Linked DNA regions of Homo sapiens: region 1 is linked to region 2. Evidence: fine-mapped expression QTL. Tissue or cell type: unexposed skin. Region 2 holds a variant in brackets; the other region holds the start of a gene. All regions are shown on one strand. Distances are from middle to middle.

The links. PIP is the estimated chance that this variant, and not a neighbour inherited with it, causes the effect.
Region 1: P2RX7 starts here. The variant in region 2 is fine-mapped to the expression of P2RX7 in unexposed skin (GTEx, PIP above 0.99). The same link has a PIP of 0.9 or more in tibial nerve and whole blood.

What each region holds. Positions count from the first base shown.
Region 1 is chr12:121,131,392-121,134,139 of GRCh38, forward strand. P2RX7 (purinergic receptor P2X 7) reads left to right here and starts at 1,485. Exons shown (of 13, transcript NM_002562.6): 1 at 1,485-1,704. The coding sequence starts at 1,580. The region is part of intron 2 of LOC105370032 (a long non-coding RNA gene); the gene reads right to left.
Region 2 is chr12:121,347,861-121,350,360 of GRCh38, forward strand. ANAPC5 (anaphase promoting complex subunit 5) reads right to left here. Exons shown (of 17, transcript NM_016237.5): 2 at 1-21. Among named protein-coding and RNA genes, the nearest start is that of ANAPC5, 3.3 kb to the right of the region's middle. The variant C/T (reference allele first, on the strand shown) is at 1,076.

The sequences.
Region 1 (2,748 bases), 220 kb before region 2:
ACAAAGGTGTGGACAGAGTTAAGAAAAAGCAATAGGAGATAGTGAGCTTCCTGGGGCTGGTAAGAGTGGGGAGCCCTTACCACTCCCAGGACTAAAGGAGGGAGTGGTGCCCAGAAGCCCTGCCTATATGCAACTGAGAAGGGCAGGGCCAGGGAGTCACGTCCATCCTCACTGCTCTCCAGTCTCCTGAACTGGAAGCCAGAAGGTGAGGGGAACCCTGATGCAGTTTGTATGTGTGAGAAAGTACAATTAGTTTAGACTGAAAAACTGAAAATCTACCCGGCCACTTAGCAGGCTGGAATAACAGAAAGGGATCAAGCCAGCTGTAAAGATAACAGGGAACAATAATTCTCTGTAGCTGTAAAGTGATAATACAACCCTGCATCTTTGAGTGACTGCTGAAACATTGTCCTTTAAAATCAGAGACCTTCAGAAACTTTGCTGTTTGAAATTACATGACTAAGACTGAAATATTCCAATTTTGCCTGGAAGATTTAAGTCATCTTGACACAGAGAAGCAGCCTCAATTTACAACTCAGGAGCAGAGCTTCAGATAAAGATTTTCTGGACACATTTGACATGTATCTTAGCTATGTTGCTTCCTAGGAAACAGGGCCCTGGGTCCTCTTTGCAATCCAGACTGAAGTTGACTGCTTTGTACAAACCTGTTTTGCTTTGAGTCCATCAAAACATGACTTCATTTAGATTTTATCTCAACTCCACTTTCCTCGGAATCCTATAATAAATTGCTGTTTTCCTTTGTTTGGTGATGTGCGTAGCTCTTCTGGTGGGTGGTGTCCCTCACTGAATAGGTCAACAAACCTAACTTTGTTGGACTGCCACTGTGTCCCTGGTGATCTTTGGCTGATTGGTCTAGGTCATAGATCGACCTGCCGGGGTGCAGAGGAGGGTGGAGAGTAACTCAGAGGGTCAAGCATGAAAGATCTGGCAGAAAAATAAAGCCCCTCCACCCCCACCACCCCTACCCCTGCAAATCTGATTTCCCCCACCAACTGCAGACCAGAGTATTATAAGGGGCGGTGGAAGAAGAGGGGGAGATCTTCATTTACCCAGAGCTCCTATACATCAGGGGCTGAATAAAGGGTTGTAGAAATGAATGAATCAATCTCTGAGTGGGGCTTCAGGCAATGGAAAGATCTCAGTCCTTTTCTGAGGCATAATGGAAGCTCCCAGTCTTGTGACATTTGCAAGGCTGCCCCTTTCTCCCAAGAGACATGAGACCAAAAAAGTGAAAGGAAAGGGGGGAAAAGGGAGAATTCTAAAAATGCCCATCCTCTGAACACCATCTTTGTGTAGGCATCTGGGGGAGGCCAGCTGGGGTGAGGTCATCTGCCAGCCAGGCCCGTAGGACTTGGCGCTTCTTGTTTATCACAGCCACATGTGGGGCCACTGCCAGGGCCCGCCCCAACTCTGCAGTCATTGGAGGAGCTTGAAGTTAAAGACTCCTGCTAAAAACCAGTACGTTTCATTTTGCAGTTACTGGGAGGGGGCTTGCTGTGGCCCTGTCAGGAAGAGTAGAGCTCTGGTCCAGCTCCGCGCAGGGAGGGAGGCTGTCACCATGCCGGCCTGCTGCAGCTGCAGTGATGTTTTCCAGTATGAGACGAACAAAGTCACTCGGATCCAGAGCATGAATTATGGCACCATTAAGTGGTTCTTCCACGTGATCATCTTTTCCTACGTTTGGTAAGTGGGATCTGGGGAGGACCCAGATCTCTGCAGTGGCCGACAGCACAGAAAGCCCCAGCGGGCAGCTTCAGGTGCACATTCTGAATCTCACATGGTTTTCGAATCTGAGACGTGCTCTCACAGCCAGCTGGGCGGGAGGGAGGAAGCAGCAGCAGGCAAGAGGAAACGGTGCCAGGCTGCAGCAGAGAGAAGCCACAGGACAAGCGGGATTCCTTTCTGCTCTACTTCAGGCCCGCCAGGGCGCGCAGGGCAGGGCGTGCCTGGGGAAGGTAGGAAAGCGCAGGGCAACACCCTGGATCCCCAGGGAGGAGGCGAGGATCTCAGGGCACGCCTGGTGATCATGCTGGCATCTGAGTCACCATGCTTGGGAGGAATAGGACCAGGCTTGAAAATGTGTTATAACTTTAGGTCCTCACCAACGTCAGGAAGGCCCTGCTTTTTGGTTTTTGTTTCTTCTAAAAGAAACTTACTGAGATATAATTTATACACCATACAATTGACCCATTTAAAGGGTACCATTTAATGATTTTCAGATTATTCCCAGAGTTGTGCAACCATCCCCACAATCAATTTTAGAATATTTTAATCGACTCAAAAGGAATCCCACACTCCTTCACCATCATTTCCAACACTGTTCCTCCTCCTTCCCACCCATCAATTTCCTTTCTGCCTCTATGGATTTGCCGATTCTGGACATTTCATATAAATGGAATCACATAATATGTGGTCCTTTGTGGCACTTAGCGTGTTTTCAATGCTCATCCATGTTGTAGCATGTGTTGATACTTCATTCAATTTTTTTTTTTAAAGAGACGGGGTCTCACTATTTTGTCCAGGCTGGTCTCAAACTCCTGGACTCAAGTGATCTGCCTGCCTCGGCCTCCCAAAGTGTCAGGATTACAGGCGTGAGCCATTGCACCCGGCTGATACTTCATTCCTTTTTACGGCTGAGTAGTACTCCATTGCATGGATAGACCACTTTTTTCTATCCATTCATCCATTGATGGACATTGGGGTTGTTTCTCTTTTTTGGCTATCATG
Region 2 (2,500 bases):
TGACAGTGTAATATCTGGGCCCTGTGTAAAGGAGAGATAGGGAGGTATGGATTTTAAAGAGCTGGAGACTGATAAAGAATTGCAAACATAAATTCATTTATCAACCCCTCTGCTTTAATAATCACTCCAAACATGCAAATAAGGATTTTTCTATCTACCTAAAACACTAAAGTAATACTTCACATTTGCATACCATTTTTGTCTAGTCAGTGGAATGGTCTAAAATAGAAAAAAAGCATAGGATTTATAGTCTGAGGATCCACTGTTCCTTCCTTCTTAGCTTTGTAATCATTGCAAAATTGTGACCTCTGAGTTCTAGTTTCCTTCATCAGTAAAATGGAGATAATAATATCTCCCTTGTTTTTGGCAAAGATTAAATAAGATAATACAAAGTGCTTTGTAAACTGGAAAACACTATACAAATACTATTTTTCACAAACACAATCTCATTTGATCTTCTCCCAAACCTTGTAAGGTAGGCAGACATACTATGTGCTGAAGTCTATAAAGAGTATGACGAGAGGCCGGGCACAGTGGCTCATGCCTATAATCCCAACATTTTGGGAGGCCAAGGTGGGCAGATCACCTGAAGCCAGGAGTTCAAGACCAGCCTGGCCAACATGGCAAAACCCCGTCTCTACTAAAAACACAAAAATTAGCCAGGCATGGTGGCACACACCTGTAGTCCCAGCTACTTGGGAGGCTGAGGCGGGAGAATGGCTTGAACCTGGCAGGTGGAGGTTGCAGTGAGCCAAGATCACGCCATTGCACTCCAGCCTGGGCGACAGAGCAAGACTCCGTCTCCAATAAAAAAAAAAGAGTACCACAAGGAATAAAGAGTATGCAACCTCAGCTACCAAGAAGATTACAGTCTAGTTGAGATTTAAAACTAAATTTAGACTCTTTTTCAGAGAATAAGATGACTGCATATATGCCAACTTTAGATGTGGATAACCCAGCAATTGCACTTCTAGGGAAGTTATTTTGGCATACATTGTTTGAAATGAAGAAAAACTGAAAGGAGCCTGTAAGTCCAATAAAGACTTAATTTATAATACAGAGTTGAATTATGTTG[C/T]TTTTCTTACTGTGAAATATAATGCAGCCATTAAAAAGACCATTTGGGGCCTGGCGCAGTGGCTCACGCCTGTAATACCAGCGCCTTGGGAGGCTGAAGCAGGCAGATTACTTGAGGTCAGGAGTTCGAGACCAGCCTGGACAACATGGTGAAATCCCATGCCCAGGCTGCTCTTGAACTCCTAGGCTCAAGTGATCCTCCCACGTTGGCCTCCCAAAGTCTAGGCACCAAGCCAAAAATTAACTAATTTAAGAAATCAAACAGTTAGTAAAGGAGTTGAGGTCTGGCTGGGATGCTACTAGATGAACTCTACATACATTTTGATTAAAACTATACAGTAGGGGGCCAGGTGTGGTGGCTCATGCCTGTAATGCCAGCACTTTGGGAAGCTGAGGCAGGTGGATCCCTTGAGCCCAGGAGTTCAAGACTAGCCTGAGCAACATAGGGAGACTACATCTCTACCAAAATTTAAAAATTAGCCAGGCATGGTGGCAGGTGCCTGTAGTCCTAGCTACTTAGAAGACTGAGGTAGGAGGACAGCTTGAGCCTGGGAGGTGGAGGCTATGGTAAGCTAGGATCGCACCACGGCACTCCAGCCCAGGTGACTGAGGGAGTGAGATCCCACCACTCTAAAAAAATTAAAAAAAAAATAAATTTAAAAATAAAAAATTAAATAAAATAACTATATAGTAGTTAGCCAGGTTAAAAACCAGAAAGAATTCCAAACAGCAAAAAACAACATGAGCAGGAAGGTGAGAGTTAAGAGACCAGAATCACTGTTTCTATTTTTTTTTTTTTTTTGGAGACGGATGCCCAGGCTGGAGTGCAGTGATGTGATCTCAGCTCACTGCAACCTCCACCTCCTGGGTTCAAATGATTTCCTGCCTCAGCCTCCCGAGTAGCTGGGACTACAGGCGCACATCACAATGCCCGGCTAATTTTTTTTTGTATTTTTAGTAGAGATGGGGTTTCACTGTGTTGGCCAGGCTGGTCTCGAACTCCTGACCTCAAGTGATCCACCCACCTCAGCCTCCCAAAGTGCCGGGGTTACAGGTGTGATCCCACCCGGCCTTTTATTTACCAAAATTTTAGTATTATAACTTTAATAATGGAGGGAAATGCATTTATAGTAATAGCAGACGTGGCTAGCCCTGGGAGCCACAAGTTATAAAGACATCCCTTTTATTTAACTGGGTAGGTCTCTTGACCATGGTGTCCTCAGTTCTCCCCTCTTCCCATGCCCCTCACCCACAAATACAAGTGATAAATTTTTTAAAAAAGCCTTTATAAACTATACTAAGGAATATAAATGCAACTCTAGACACTAATTTTATTAGGTTTATCTTTTAAGATCCCATAATATAGAGGCCCAGGGACCCAGATCTGTTTCTGCCATCACTGTTACTCAACAGACAATGCTTATCC